Linked DNA regions of Homo sapiens: region 1 is linked to region 2. Evidence: fine-mapped expression QTL. A gene starts in region 2. The other region holds a variant in brackets. All regions are shown on one strand. Distances are from middle to middle. Region 1 has its middle 66 kb from the start of ELFN2. Region 2 holds the start of ELFN2 (extracellular leucine rich repeat and fibronectin type III domain containing 2).

Region 1 (8,320 bases), 66 kb before region 2:
CAGAACTTGAGTACGGGGCCTCACGCTAGACGGGAGGTTGGGGAATGTCTTAATAATAGACCACATGCCTGGCTGAAAATGAAGGGTTTTGCTCCTGTGGAAGAAGGGAAGGTGGATACTGGAGAACAGCTTGTGATCTCTGCCACAACAGAGGAGTATCTTTGCATAGGTTTCTTCGCCATTTTTATGGCTTCATCTAAGAATTCTCTTTTCCTACTCTCCTTTTCCTCTCACACTGATCATCCTTTTCTTACTGATTTTTAGCCACACTTCTTATGGGGAACTCACTACACTTCCCAAAACCATCTGTAGCAGTGCTTGGCTCTAAGAATTTGTGTCAAAATCAAATGGGAGCCACAGGGATGGGCCCAGCTCAACACGTGGCTCACGTTAAATGCCTCACAAATGTTGGCTTCCTTCCCTTGAGTCAGGCATTGCAAAAATGTTGCGGTGCCCTAGAACCCCCTAGAGTGCTAACAACTTGGAGCCCAGGCTTATTGAAAGACAGGGCCTGGGCCCTTCTGTTTTTACCAACTTCCCTGGGTGAGAATGATACCCACTGAAGTCTGAATTTGCCCTCAATTGTTGACAAACTCTGTACTGTCATCGACTTCCTCTTGGTCAGCAGCACGAGCGTGGCCACCCCCTCCACACATCACCCTGCACGCATCTGAAGCCGAAGTGAAGTCCCACAGCCAACCTTCTCTTTGCCAGGAGAAAAAGCCCCATTTTCTCACTCATCCCTTGCGTGGCAGGGATTCCCAACCCTTCTAATTGCTATCATTCTCAGCAGGTGGACCTGGCGGGTCAACCTCCCTCCTGGCATATTCACCCTGGACTGACCATAGCCTCTCCAGGTGGAGTCTGGCCAGTACGGGAGAGCACAGAACCCTCACCTCCCCCAGGCCAGACCCCGTGATCCTATTCACATGGCCCACGGCTGCATCGGCCCTAGAAACAGCTTTGTCACTCCGTGAACCTACAGTAAGTTCAAATCCCCCCCAGTCTCCAGGAAGTAGGAGTTCCGTGTTGATGGTTACATCTGCACATGCTACAAGTGGCACAAAACCTTTACTCAAGTGAGTTCAAGCAAGAGACATCAGTTCACATGAGAAGGCAGAGGCACGCAGGTCCAGGTCCGCCGGGGCGAGCCTCGGTCCACCGTTTCTTCGAATACAGGATTTGTTCTCTTTCCACTTGGACATCTCAATGTTTCACAGAGAGGGCCCTAGTGTTTCCTAAACTGCAGAGTTTCAGGCATCTGCATCCCGATTAGATACAACCGATTCTAAAGGAGGATCATTCTTCTCGTCCCATTTCCTCTTCCTGGTTGGAACTGGGTCCCGTGGCCATTCCTAAGCCAATCACTGGCAGGGGGAGTGGGACTACCATTTCTGGCAGGTGCCAAGGTCCAGAGGCATGAGTCGGTGATGGGCCTTCTCAGCATGGCTGGAAGAGCCTGTGAGATTATCTAACAGATGAGGGGCACAGCCAGATGTGGGCCCACTGGCTGCTATCATCCCCCAAGTGAAGGGTGGTGTGGCTTGCACCCCAAGGGGAATGGGTACATGGAGAGGAGCAGCCAGATTGAGATGAGTTGTCAAGATCAAGTCAGTATGAGATGAGGGGAAGGTGGAGACTAGCTCCAAAAAAACGGCCCATCATGTTGGCTTGAGTGGCAGGGGACTGCCACTTACATAGGAAGCAGGAGGACTGGGGGCCGCTGGGCTATCTGAGATGGACGTGGGGCTGGAAGTCACCAACATATATCCATATGTTGGTATTGGAAGCCCTGGGGCTTGGGGGAGTGCACTAAGTAGGGAATCAGTGAGTCGACACTTTAGCACCTCCGTGACTGTCTCCAGCTGTGGCAGGAATCCAAGAGAGAGATGGAGACCTGGATTAAGGCCACCCGGCAGGGAATTGAAAATATAATTTGTAAAACGCAATCATCTGGTCCAAATGAGGAAGGGAAGGAGAGTAACCAAGTTTGGATCTCAGAAAGACTCAGATGGTGTGAGGTCGCTGTCACTGACCCTCAGCACAAGGGGCTCGGCTTTGCCCTCACTGGCCTGGTCCTTCTTGGGAGCCTTCCCCTGGCCTCCCTGGCCAGGCCCCTGCCACTCCCCTCTTCCTTTACCCCACTCGGAGGTTCTCCTGGCTCTCTCCTTCCTGGCTCTCGGCCCTCTATGGGGTCTATTTCTTTTGACCAAAGCATCTGCTTCCATTGCTGTATCTGCAACACTGTCGCAGCCTCCTTCATTCAGCCAACATTCTCGAGCGGCCCCTACCTGGGCCAGGCCACGGTATGAACGCTCCTCAGCTCTCAAGGCTTCCGTGCCTCGATACAGCTACGTGAAGCAGGAGTAGCTCAATCCATTTCACAGAGGTGGAAATTGAGGCTCTGGAGTTCGGAGGAGCACTCCAAGGCCCAGTACTGCCTGACCACCATGGGGCAGGGCAGACGAGCCCCAGACTTGGAGCCTACCCTAAGAAGTTTCTCGGCTTTGCTCAGGAAAGAATTCAAGTGTGAGCTGGTGGTGGAAGAAACAGCTTTACAGAGGTGATAGTGTTACAGCTCTGTGATTGCCCCTGCAGAGCAGGGCTACCCCACGGGCAGTGTGCTGACAGCAGCAGCTCAGGAGGAGTTCTGCAGTCATGTTTATACCCACTTTTCATCACATGCAAATTAAGGGGCAGGTTATTTAGAAATTTCTAGAAAAGGAGCTGTAACTTCCAGGTCATTGCCATGGAAAGGGGCAGTAACTTCCGGGTATTGCTATAGACAAAGGTAAAACTCATGGTGCTGGTGGTGGGCATGACTTCTGGAGAGAGGTGCTTTCAGGGCCTCTTCCTGTTTTAGCCACTCTTCAATCTGGTCTAGAGTTGAGTCTCCGTCTCCCACCTCAACCACACTCCCTGGTGGTCAGTCCAGCCCTAAGTTCATAGTCTGGCCTGGGGTGTCTCATCATGCATTTATGGGTGTAGAGGCAGCCAGGCCTGGGATGGGGACATGAGCTCCTGGAGTCAGGGAGAGTGGGCAGCCAGCCCTTGCCTGCGTTAATCAGCATTTGTTGGGCCTCAGTTCCCTGGTCCATACACGGAGGGTAAAAGTAAGTACCTTTTCCTCATTGGAGTACAACAGAACTCAAACGGCCTCATGCCTACCTCATGGCTCTCTTGTGAGGTGGCACTGGAAGCTCTGTGTGTGAGCACAGTGCGGACACACAGTGGGTGACTCGTCCCTCAGTGAAGTCCTCCAGTTAAGAGCCGTGGACCACGTACCTCTGTACACCCCACGCCACCCCTGCTTAGCAACCTCCATCCGGCTGGCACAGGGACAGCTCAGGGTGAGACTGAGGGGAGTCGATGATCAGCTGTCAACAGGGAGTCAGTGGGGAGACTTCCACTCTCAGGTCCTAAAGTCAGAAAGCTCCTTAGACCGAAAGCAGCTGGGAAAGCAGGGGCCAAAGACAGGAAATGGGAGCTGCAGAAACTGAAATATCAGACACAAAACAGGAGGCAAGAGCAGCTCTGGCCATGAGGCAACAAAGCAGAACAAAGAAGAGGCTCGTACAAGGCAGAACAAAAATGGAGATGAAGAACCAAGATGGCCCAGAAGCCTCACTGCAGTGGGCAGAGTGAAGCGCGGCGCTCCCCTCTAGTGCTATGTGATGGGTGGACTGTGCCCTCTGGAATGGGGTTTACAGCAGGGACTGAGCCACTCGAGGCTCCACTGTCTCCTAGGGTTACTTCCCGCCTTTAACCCTCACCTGAACCATGTCAAAGGACCGTTATAAACAGCTAAGGGACAGCCACATCCCGGCAGCTCCCCAGAGACAGAGGTGCTGTCTCCTTTAGGCTTTCCCACCACAGGTGCCAGCCAGGGCTGGTGCCTCACATGGCATGTAGAAGAAGACTTGTGAGTTGACCCTCAGAGCAAGAAACTAGGAAAAGCAATGGGGCCATGAGATGCTGCTGAGCAGCAGTAAAGAGAAAAATATGCTTTTTACTTAGCTGGAAAGGGCAAAAGGAAGACACTCCAAATGTAAAGTGACTTTCTGAGCCCCCCTCCTCCCTACCCCCTTATCCTGCCCTCCATGAGTTGCCAGTTCCATCCCACCTTCCTCCCACCCCCAGGAGAAGTTCCTGCCAGCCCCACTCAACTCCTGGGCCCAAGTGACGCCATCTCCCCTTCCACCTCCCCAGTCCCCGCAGGGTCGTTCCCTCCTCTGTGAGCAGCCTTCCAAGCCCACCCTGCTCCTGCCCAGACACAAAACAGCAAAACCACTTCCTCTCCCTTTTCCTCCATGTATAGCCTTTTCCTCCAAACAGTGGGCCCATCCCACACCATCTGACTTCTACCCCCAGGCCCCATTAACTCAGAGCCCAGGCCTATCCCTAGTATTTCCTAGGCCTGGGCGTGAGTACAAAGGGAAGCCCAAATCCTGTGTGTCTAAATACTGAAAAGTTCTCCATTCAGCTAACAAACTGTTAGAATATCCTCCTGCCTTGACAAATGTACCTTCACGATGACCTCTAACAGGTTTGAATTTCAAATTCCTGGCCTCCCTAAATGTGGTGGCCTATGGAAAGTCAAGCCCCATTCTCCGGCCCATAGGACACCCTCTTCTCGCCCACAGCACTATCTCACAACTTAAAGGGTCTCACAGGCATGCATAGAGACTGCCACCCCACGCATTCAAGCCCTGCCTACACCTCCCACACGCAGCTACTCCTTGGTCATCTCTCATGCCTAGGAGTGCCCACATGGGTGGCACGGTCCACCCTGGGAAGGACAGGCCTTGGAAACATGTCCGGGGCCAACTGGACAGTCAATCCTGGCATCCCAGGTGCTTGGAGCATGGTCAAGTGGAAAGTGTCTGGGAATGCCCGTGGGCCCTGCAGACTCATCAGCCCGTGGGGAAGAGCAGGGGGCTAGGAGAGGGTCAGAGCAGACCCTTCTCACATA[T/C]ATGCCCTGTGGCAGGGACCCCCTTAATCCTGGTGCCACCTGCCTCCTCCTCCCCCCGTCTCTGGGTTATAATCTAAATAACTGCCAGACGTAACCTCTTCTTCCCTGATCATGCTTCCTATGACCACAGGAAGGCTCTCCCCGTTTCCAACCCTTATTTTGGGGGGCTCATTCTTCCCATCTTTAAAGGAAAGATTTGGAGCAGACATCTCAGCAGGAACCAGAATTTTAGCAACAAGACACGAGATGCAGGGGTTGACAGGGCCGGCACAGGCCCCAGGATTATTGTACAGGTGGCATCTCTCGACACTCCACTGGCCTAAGGTTGGGACGTTGGGCCATGCCCGATCTGGGACTCGGGTCTTTGGGCCCTGACCTCCAGGGGAACAGGCAAAGTTTGGGAGTAAAGTGGGTTAGAGCTCCTTCCAGCTCTTCTGGGTATGCTGTGCTTGCTTGGGCCAATTACTGTCTCTGAGTCTTTCCCCCAAAGTGTAGAGCAGGGGTAAAGCCCCTACTTCATGGAGCTGCCGAGGAAATAAACACACCCTGGTCCACACACCAGATGTGAGGCATCAGCCCAACCCTGCCAAACCCTCTTAAAGCTGCAGGACAGATGTTTGGGCTCTACAGATCAGATGCTCTTCTGAGAGCCTTGGAAGGAAGCAGTGAGGCAGAGAGATGCTTCTACCGCCATCGTCCCTGCCCTAGAATGAGAGTCCACAGCCCATTGCCAGCACCCAAGGGGTACCCCTGCAGCTGCTGTGATCCTGGCAACAGCAGCCCAGGGCCCCCCGAGGTACCGATTCATTCCCTCAGCAGCCCCATGAAGCAGAAACAGGTGGCAGCTCCCTTGGTGGGTCAGTCCTGCGTAGTTATTTTAAAAGTCAGTTTGAAAAGGCTACCCCTGAGTCTGGTCTGCAGCCCTCCTGACAATTCCATCCACCACTTGGTTTCCTCTTGTGAATTTTTTTTTCCTGCTTAAATTAGTTACAGAGAATTCTGTTCTCTGCAATAGAAACCGGACTGAAGTCTATAAATTCACAGCCATGGTGCTTAACATATGGGGATTGAGCCATACAATTTGTTTGAAAAGTAAGTGAGAAGAGAGAGGGGCAGATGAGTGAGTTTTCTCCCCCTAGACCATTGCAGATTCTGGGAGTTATCTAAATCAGGGGAGGCGAGAGTTGCTGGAGGAGTTTCACCCCCCTGGGAACTCCTTCACACGTGACCTTGCTTAGTTTGGCAAGGACGGGGAGGACGGAAGATGCGCGGTCTGAGATGCAGGTGAGGGCAGTTTTAGAGGAGGCCAACAGAGAGAGGGGGATTTGGGGTGGGGACTGGGTAAGAATGGGTGTCGTGGGCTTGGCGCTGACAGCAGGCTGGGGCCCTAGGCCTAGGGAAGGAGAAGGGGCTGCCAGCATATGCCGGAGAGGCAGCCCGGGCCTCAACTGGAGGTTGGGCCCTAGGAGTCTAGCCGTGAAACCCTCCAGGCAGGAGTGGTGGGGAAAGCAGAAAAGCCCTAGCTTCCTGACATGTCCCCACATGCCTGAGGGAGGGGGCAATGGCTGAGCTCCCAGAACGGCAGGGCCGAGAGCAGCCTGGACAACAAGGAGCAGAGGGTGACCCACAGGTGCAGGGTTGGGAAGACAGTGACAGCGGGAGGCCAGAACCGTCACCTCCAATGCACACCTAGCATCAGGTCTCCTTCCTTGCAGACAAAGGGCCTTGGGAAGGAGGCTCATGGGGCCAACCAGTTCCCCATGTGGGAGTCCTCAGATGCAGAGACCAGGAAGCTGCAGATGGGACCTGCAATCCAGGGGAATTGGGGTAAAGTGAGACCAAGAGCAGAACTCAGAATTGGATTCCCCAGCCCCACAGTCTGGGAAGAATATGAAGAAAACACCTGAGCCAGCAGGGATCACCTAAGCCTCCCTTGGCCAAGGACTAGACAGTAAAGGCTTTCCTGGAAAAAGGGGCTTGCAGACCCTAACCTCACAACACCAATAGGATGGAAGCCTCGGGGAGGCCAGGGTGGTGGCGGCAGCAAGGGAGGATTGCCTGGGATTCAGGGCCAGGCACAGGGCCACGGGGCAGCCTCAGGGATGAGGGGCTCCGGAAGAAGCACAAGGGCTGCCAGGAAAGAGCCGGGGGTGCAGAGCAAGAGAGAGACTGGCCTGGCCACAGCCCCACTGGGACAGCTGCACTGGGCCTGTGTGAGGGCACTCAGAGGGGACAGGGGCCAGCTGGGGCCCAGGCAGGAAAACAGTGAGGGGCCAAGCCCTGGGTCATCCCAGAGGGTCCCCACAGTTCAGCCAACTCCCATGGAGGCAGGAAGGGAGCAGGAAACCCCATGGGCCACCAGAGCCAGCAGGACACAGCTCCTGTAGACACAGGCCAGGGATGAGTGCCACGCTGTGACACCAGTCACAGGGAATAGCTTAGGACAAGGGAGTTCATTTAAAGCAAGCCATAACAATCCAGGCCAAATCCAGGGGCCTTCCTGGAAGAGGGGTTGGTAGCAGTTGGAGAACAGGAGTCTGAGAAAAGGGCAGGTGGGCTCTGCCTCTGGGAAGCAAGGAGGCTGGGGCTGGGCGGTGGGCCCCAGGCTGCCCCCGAACAAAGGCTTGGGCAGTTCAGCCTGAGGTCACTGGATGCTGACCTGAGTGCCTCAGCCTGACCAGAGAGACAAGGTACCTCCTAAATCTGAGAAGGAGCAGGAATGCTTCCGGGCTGTGACAAAAATGAACAGCAGATGGTGGGAGGGCACCAGAGGAGCAGGTGGGGCAGGGGTCCAGGACAGGCTGCCCAGGCTGAGCCCAGAGGAGAGAACCAGTGGGTCCCACAGTGACCCTGGACCCACCAATGACAGGAGCAGGAGGAGGCCAGCCTCTGAGACACTGGGCCTGGGGCTGAGTGCCTGGAACCCTGCCTTCAGAGACTAAATAAAGGAGACCCTGAGAACCAGTGAGATCCAGTGATCCCCCAAACCCTGCAGCCACAAGGGCTCATTTTAGGCTCACCTCTGGAAAACATTTATAGTTGTTGAGGCAGGGGGAGCTTGAGGGAGGGGAATATTCAGCTAAACAACTAAACAGAAAAGGAAGTTCCTGGCCCAGTAGCTACAAGGGTCACCAGAGTCACCTTGGAACTGTCAACTCCTTCAAACCAAGCCCCAGCAGAGACCAGGGAACTGTGCTGAGGACACCTAGCTTCCCTGGAGCCCTGCTGCGGGGAAGAACATCAAAGAAGCTAGAGAAGGAAGCCTGCCCGGGCTGGAGAGGGCCGGTGGTCGGTGAAGTTTGAGTTACAGATATCTTGGAAAAAAAGAAGGAAGGAAAAGGAGGAAGA
Region 2 (8,320 bases):
CTGCACCCATTTACAGATAAGCAAAGCAAGGCCCAGAAAGGGCCTTCAGTGAGAGGGGTAGGCCAAGATGTAGAGGCCTCCAGGCCCATCTGGCAAAGGAGTTCAGCAGCCAATGGTGCTGATGTGAGAGTTTCCCTTCGAGGGTTCCAGTCCTGGTTCCATCGCTGTGTGGCCCTGGACTGGTCTGTAACCTCTCTGTTTCTTGTCTTCAAAATGAGGAATAATAATAGTGCCTGCTGCAGCTGGCTTTTGTGGGACTAAACGAATGCCGCCCATAAAGAGCTTCGAACCGGGCCTGGCTCTCAGTAGGGGCTCAATAATATTAGCTGATATCATTATTATTATTATCACTATAGTTATTACTATTTCAATCAGCAGCATCGTGCAGCCAGCACCCTTCCTCTGGCACCCCAGGCATAAGCAAGCCTGCCCAGGTGGCTCTTGAGTCCTCAGGGCTTCTCTGGGGCTTTCCTGGGGACTGTCGGCAGAGCTAGGGGGAAGGAGAGGGGGCTCAATTATTCCAACCCCCAGACACCATCTCCAGTAATAATGTCAATGCCTCTGCCCCAGGTGGTAATTGAGCCAAGAGAAGGTTAATTTAATCAGGGATTGGGCTGGGACGGCAGGAGGCAGAGGACTGGGTAAACCTTCTAGACGATTAACACAGCTCCTGAAGAGGTCTAACTTGCTAAGAAGCGTCAGGTTTCGAGGCAATCCTACTTCTCGGCCATCCACTCCACACAGCACATGTCACAACATGGGGCAGGTGGGGGCACCGAGAGAGGAGCTTGGCCCCCAGGCACTGTGGCCGGAGCAGGTGAGGGTAGCAGCAATGTGTGCCTCCCAGCCCTGCACACGGTTGTCACCCTTTCACACTCACACATCACACCCGCAAGGGAAGCTGCCACCACCCTCTTACAGAGACAGGAGAGGCTGACCTCTGTCACACACAGCCAGGATGCAGATGCGGCAGGGGTGTCACTGGAACCCAATTCTGCTGCCAAAAACAAGCATCCTACAAGACCTCAGGGGATATTGAGGAACAGGCATGGAGCCCCCAGTGACCGCCCTAGACACGCCCCACTGGAGAAGGCTTGCTGAGTGTGCCCGTTCCTATCACGCTGACTGTTTCTGGAGCTTGTGGGTGGAAGAGCAAGAGAGCACTGACCTGGGAGTCAAGAGCAGCCTCTCCTCCAGCCAGAGACTCTTGGCCTTGGGCTCATCACCTGGCACCCCACCACCAATTCCTCATAGCTCCATATCTCTCCAGGAAAGGAAGGTACCCCTCGAGAAGGGGCTGGGTAATCAAATGTGTCTCCCTGTAGCCACTGAGGGCGGCGGGGGGGGGGATGGAATTCACATTAAATCAACAGACAGCTTATTCCAGAACTCAGTTTACTCATCTGTCAAATATCCACATAATAGTGGCTAACTCACCCACCTCAAAGAACTGCCGTGGAAATCCAAGGAAAGAAAAGAAAGTCCTTTGCAAAGTTAGACTTAAACCAAAACAGGAAAGCAGCTACTCTGGGCTAGGGGGATAGGAGGTGAGAGGACAGAGCTCACGTGGACTGAGCCCCCACCATATGCCAGGCATCAGCACCCGCCCCCCACAAGGCCCATGGTCTCCTTAACCCCCTTCACCTCTCTAACCCCTCACCCCATGTTACAGAGGAGAGACTGAGGCTCAGAGAGGCGACGCGAATGCTTAAATCACAAAACACAGAAAGCAGCAAAATGGGATTCGAACCAATGGCCTCACGCTCCCTGGCTATGGCCATTTTCTATTGTCACATGCACTGACACACTCACTCATTAAAGCACATCCACCCAGGGGTGGTGGGCCTGGCTGGGATGAAGAGGAAAACAGGGACTGGGGAGGTCAGATAGGGGGCTGCAGCACATTGGAGGCCTCCAGGCCCACCTGGCAAAGGAGTTCAGCAGCCAATGGTGCTGATGTGAGAACCTCCTTCGGGGGTTCCAGTCCTGGAAGGTGCACTCTTCAGGGGGCAGGACTTAAGGAAAGGGGTCCCATGCCCACTCAGGATGCTGGGAAAGGCGGCCTCTTGGGAGGGACCACGCCACGCGTCCTAAGGCTCCATCCCTCTCCCCTTCCCACCCCTCATATACAAGAGACATAACCACACTCGGCCACACACACTCCCGTGACATCACATTTACACACTCTGGCTGGGGGGAGCAACCTCCGACAAAACTGTCCCAGTGACGTCACCTGCGGCCTGGAGCTTATGTCACACCTGAGGTTCTCACTGACCTCACATACATACTTTTTCCTGATGTCCCCACAATTAACACTCTTTCTTCCTGCCTAGGCGTTGATGGCCCAGAGGTACCCACCTCCCCACCCACACAGTTGCAGGGCCCCCGGCTCATCAGGACAGCACCTGCCTGTGCACCCCTCTCAGGGGACACACATGCCCACATGCTTTGCTGATGGCCCAGACGTGACACGTCCCACAGGTGTCCACGGGCCACGAGAACAGGGGTGTCAGCCATGCACATACACATACACACACACACACACACACACACACACTCCCAGTCCCATCTCATGATGCAACTTGCATATTAAAACGCCTCTCGGTAACCGCGCCGGGCAGTCCGCGCCCCACAGCTTCCACCACATTCCTCCAGGTGCTGCCAGCACCCCACTCCCTCCAGCTTTCTGACTCCGACAGCCTGGCCTGCTGATAGCGACAGCCGCAGCCCAGACACACACACACACTCCAGCCCAACACCTGCGTCTCAGCAAGGGACCAAGGCAGTGCCCTCCAGCCGCAGCTGCTGGGTGGGAGGAGTCCAGGGGGAAGGGGCACAGCACAGAGCCCTGAGCTGCAGAAAGTGCCGAGTACCACGTTCCTCCCCAGCTGAGTGCACGGTCAGCACCACTGTCCCCTTCTCGTCTCCCTCCTTGGGCACGCCTGACACACCATGGCCTGTGGCCTCTGTTTTGGACACAAGCTCCCCGAGTGTGCATGCACACGCGCGCGCGCGCACACACACACACACACATCAGCTCCCTTCCCTCCAAACATTCCGAGGAAATCCTGCCAGGCCACTGACAGTGTGCGTGTGTGCGCTTGTGTGTATACAGACAGAGAGCAGGGTCCACCCCATGTCCACACACACACGCACACACCACACACACACAGCACGCACAATCCTCTCCACATGCACACGGCGCCCCACCAGCCAACACACCCACCCCCTCCCCGTCCCCTGACAGCTGCTGGAGCCCACACACGCACGCACACACACACACTGGCACGCGCTCGCACACACACACAAACACACACACACACACACACCCGGCAGTGGCCCCGGCCCTGCCAGAGCTGCAGTGTCTGCGATTTATGCCGCCTCCCTGGGCTGCCTCCCTCCTTGTCCCTGGCCAGCGCCTCTGAAAGGGTCCCCACCCCCCAATTCTGGTCTTACCAACCCCACCGCCGTCAAGCCCCACCCTGGCCCCCCTTCCCCTAGAAGGCATCCACCCCGTCAACCCCTCTTACCAGCTAGAGGATGAATGCCTTGACCCGGCAGCACCCCGTGAAAGAGAGGGGTTAGGGCCCCCGATTCGAAAAGATGAGGGCAGAGAGGTGCAGTGTGGCACCGGCTGGCACACCGTCCACCATCGAGCCTCTGCACCACCCCCAGAAACGCTCACCTCACCGACCGTCCTCGGTGTCCTCCCACCGCCTCCGCCCACCGCCACCACCACCACCTCCCTCGCGCAGGGTGGTCCCCCGGGGGTCTCACGGGGATCCCCAGACCCAGGAGACACTGGGGGTGGCTCTCCCCGTCTCATCCCCCCTTCCGTGTCCCTCTCCAAGCCCCACCCCCACTGACGGAGGGGGTGCCCTCCGGCTCCAGCCCCGACTCCCACCGTCTCCCCGGTCGGTCGGTCGCGGCGCTCGGATCCAGAGGAATTCACTTACCCCAGCCCCAGCCGGGATCCGGGCCAAGCACCGCCTCCGGGAAGCGGCGGCCGCGGGGCCTGCGCGTGTGAGTGTGAGTGTGAATGTGAGTGTGAGCGCGGGTGTGGGTGCGGGGTGCGTGGCCGTGGGGTGGCCCGCGTGTGTCTGTGTGTGTGTCTGGGAGCGCGCGTGTGCGCGCAGACGCCGCCGCCCCCTCCTCCCCGCCGCCGCGCCTCTGCCCCTGCCTCGGCGGGGAGGGCGCCCGGGAGGGGCCAAGCGGCGCGCGTCAGGGACCGCGGCAGGCTGTGTCCGTCTGTCCGTCCCCGTCTGTCCGTCCGCCAGCCCGCCCGCTCCCGGTGCCCTCCGCAGGCCTTTCCGCAGCAAGCCCGCTCCCGCCCCCGAGCCGGCCGCACGCTCCACGGACACACGCGCGCTCGCAGACACACGCCCGCGGGGCTGGGGCCGCGCCTGGCGCCGCCGCTGCAGCTGCAGCGCCCGGGGAGGCGAAGGCGGCCCCACGGACCCGAGCCCCGGCCTGGCGGACCCCTGTCCCGGCCGCGGCCCCCTGCGCTGCTCACCCCGCGGGATCCGGGTCCGGGTCCGGGTCCGGCCTCCGCCAGCGCATTCAACAGCTGGGGGCAAACTTGCGGCGGGGCCGCCCGAAGTGCGCCTGGACTCGCCCTCCCCCTGGACTCCGCCTCCGCTGATGGGCCCCCTCTCCGCCTTGTACCTCCATGCCCTGCCGCCTGCGCCCTGCTGGTTGGTCCCGCGTTCAACCGCTGGCGACTGGGGAAGTGCGGCTGCTGCGTTCCCATTTTACAGGCCAGACAACTGAGGTTCGGAGAGGAGTGATTCCCCCAAGGTTACACAGGGAGCCTACAGACAGTATTAGACTTTACGCTCCCCTACCTTGTGCCAGGGCACTCACTGCCTTTCCCCACCCCTCCAGGAGTAGGTCCAAGGGATACTGGGCTCATCTGTAGCTAGAGAACCTTCATTAGCCTTCCAGAGGCCCAGTTCCCCGCCCCTTACGCCAAAGCCCCTGCCACCTGCTGCCACCTGCAAAGGGGTGGATGCTGGGAGGAGGAGGAGGAGGTGGAAGATGCAAGAAGCCTGGCACCCGGGGCCTATAACTTGGTGCTTGGGCATGCAAGCACCTCCTCCCGAGGCCCTGCGAGCTGCATGTCGGAGGCCTGCTGCCAGCAGGCCCTGTACTTCTCCATCACTTTTATAGGACCGCATGCACCAGCGCCTGTTCTCAGGTGTTGCACAGCAGATGAAGTCCAGGCTGCGGGAACTCCCCGTCGGGACATCTCATGCAGGTCTGGAATAAGGAGACTCCCCAGAAGAAGCCACTGCCTGAGCTGAATCTTGATGGATGAGTAGGAGTTGGCCAGCTAAAGAAGGAGGAGAAGGGTGTCCTGGACTCTGGGAACAGCATGTGCAAAGAGGCACAGAGGCATGAAACAGCTTTGTATGTGTGTACAGGGAACTCCACGGAGTTGGGTATTAGTAGAGCAGAAAGAACGTCTGTCCAGAAATTCCTCCCTCCTTTCAACTAAGAACAGGGAACGGCCCAGGATGGGGCTGGGAGGGCAGACAAGCACTGGGTCACAGGCCACTTGTTGTCCTGGGGTATGCAGAAGGACTATTGGGCGTTCCCCACCTGCACCCCAGGCTGCCTGGCACACTCCTACCCATCCTTCAAGGTCCCTCGCTGCAAACCCAAACAAGCCATGTGCTGTCTCTGCCCTCTAAACTGAGCCCTCCTACAGGGCAGGGGCGGTATCCAACACATGGTGTGTATCCCTGACAAGGCTGGGCAAGAAGCAGGGTCCCAGCTCCAAGACCTTGCTGGAAGAGCCCCTCAGGCGGAACATAACGGCCTCTGCGCCCTCTGGCGGATCCCTCGAGAAATTAGAGTGCTCCCCAAGCCAACAGCCCCCCTGTGGCTCTCAGGCCCAGACACTTTCTGAGATGGGCACTGGCAGATGCCACCTAATCCGCTCCTGCCCAAGAAACTGAGCAGTGATGACCCCAAAGAATACCAGGGAGTCAGTGGCAAAACAGCCTCTTGCTGCTCTGTTTCCGAGACATTCCCAGTCATCTTCCAGAGTGCAAGTCACAACCCTCTCTGAGCCTGTTTCCTCCTTTGTGAAAGAAATATAGCAAAAGCAGCCAGTACCCCCAGCACAGTGCCGGCCACTCCCTTCTCCCTGGAGACCTCCAGGTCTGGCTGGATTTGGTCAGAATTTGTTTGAAGCTCTAAAACGGTCTAAGAATCTCCCTTTGGAGACTTTGCCCTTACTGGGCAGATGTACATTGACAAGAGTTTCAGCTCTTAGCTGACTTTCTGCCACCATATAGAAGATAGAGTTGGCCTGGCCTGAGGGTCATAGTGGACCACACCATCTAGACACTCGACTGGGCTTTCTCTAGACCATAGTGGAAAGGATACATGTCTGCACTGTCAAAGACAGTAGCCACTAACTGCATGTGGCTATTGAGTGATTGGAATTGTGGCTAATGTGGCTGAGGAACTAAATTTTTAATTTTAATTGTTATTACTTTAAATTTAAATAGCCATAATGTGGCTTGTGGCTGCCATGTGAGATAGTGCAGCTCCAGACATATAGCAAGCTCCTTATTAAAATCAAGCCCAGGCAGACCTAATGCACACACACAAACACACAGACACACACACAGGGAACCCTGAGGACCTGGGAATGCGGGGAGCGGGGAGCTCAGGAGACTGCCTAGAATCCGTAGCTGAATGGTTAAGACCGAGACAAACGTAAGCAATAACATGTCCATTCCCACAGTCACTGCCCCAGACCAGGCTTGCCGTCACCTGGATACCTGCAACAAACTCCCTCACCACCCATCTGTTTAAACCCTCCAGTAGCTCCCCAGAGCCCATGCACAGAGGCAAATATGTTCTCTTTCTCATGACAAGTGATTGGCAGCAGCTGCCTAGAGGTGCTCACCCTTTGCAGAAAATGGCATGATCAATTGGTGATGTCTGCCTCAGGAATAAATACAGAGATGAATGGTAAGCCCTCTCTGCTACAGGATAAAATCCAAACACTATTTATTTATTTATTTTAGAGACAGTGCCTCTCTCTGTCACCCAGGCTGGAGTGCAGTGGTGCAATCTCCACTCACAGTGGTGCAACCTCCGCTCACTGCAACCTCCGCCTCCCAGGTTCAAACTATTGTCCTGCCTCAGCCTCCCAAGTAGCTGGGATTACAGGCACCCACCACCATGCCTGACTAATTTTTGTATTTTTAGTAGAGACGGGGTTTCCCCATTTTGGCCAGACTGGCCTCAAACTCCTGAGCTCAGGTGATCTTCCTGCTTCAGCCTCCCAAAGTGCTGGGATTACAGGCATGAGCCACCGCACCTGACCAAAACTCCAAACTCTTTAACTTGCCTAAATAAGGCCCGTTGCAGTTGGTCCTTATTTATTCCTCCAGCATCTTCAATATCATCCCACATATGTTCTGGGTCCCAGCAACACCAATATCTGCCCTTTCCAGACTCACTTTCTGCCACCATATAGAAGATGGAGTTGGATCTGTCACCCCATCATCTTCACACCTTTGTGCTTTTGATCCTGTTCCCTTGATGTGGGAGGACTTTCCTCCTCTCAGATCCCTTCCCTACCTGTCTACTTTCTACCTATCCTCAGGTACTGCTTGAAAGCCGCCTCCTCAGTGAAGCCTCCCCTGACCACTCCTAAACTGAGCTGGCTGAGCTACTTCCTTCTCCACCGGCTCCCAGAACACTCTGCAAGGCTTCAGTGACAGCACACATCACATCATGTCATTATTCATTCTCTATGTGTCCACCTCCCCCAGCTTATTCTTCACTTGGTCACCTCTATCAAGTAGCAACCATGTGTCAGGGGCTCGCTCAGGGCCAGGCACTGTGCAAGGCCATTTTCACACATTATTCTTATTAATAAGCCACCAATCTAGACGTTAGGAGGTTCTCTTCCGGGCACACAGCATCCACCCCCCCTTCCCACCAGCGCCCTAATTTCTCCTCTCCCCACCACCATGGACAGTCTTGGAGGAATGTGAATCCAGGTACCACTTCCTGCCCTCAGCTGGGCTAATTGCGCTGTGGGTGGAGTGACGCGTGCACAGGAAAATTAACCGGAGCAGAACCATCCTCGAAATGTCAGTGCCAGGTGACATGGGTGGGCTGGGCACCTGCCCTGCATCCCAGAACCCCATCTGCTCGGCCTTCTCCCAGAGGTGCACAGGAGCTGCCCCTGGCTGACAGCTCACCAGAAAGTGCCCTTTATTTTCAAGGTGAACAAGCATGGCCCACATCCAAATGATCCCACTGCCCTGGCCACGTCACTAGAAAGACATTT

What was found.
Region 1: its variant is fine-mapped to the expression of ELFN2 in testis (GTEx, PIP above 0.99). The same link has a PIP of 0.9 or more in anterior cingulate cortex, caudate, cerebral cortex, hippocampus, hypothalamus and nucleus accumbens.

Annotation. Positions count from the first base shown.
Region 1 is chr22:37,357,260-37,365,579 of GRCh38, forward strand. It overlaps a transcript of ELFN2 not described here. Among named protein-coding and RNA genes, the nearest start is that of ELFN2, 66 kb to the right of the region's middle. The variant T/C (reference allele first, on the strand shown) is at 4,973.
Region 2 is chr22:37,423,342-37,431,661 of GRCh38, forward strand. ELFN2 (extracellular leucine rich repeat and fibronectin type III domain containing 2) reads right to left here and starts at 4,138. Exons shown (of 3, transcript NM_052906.5): 1 at 3,957-4,138.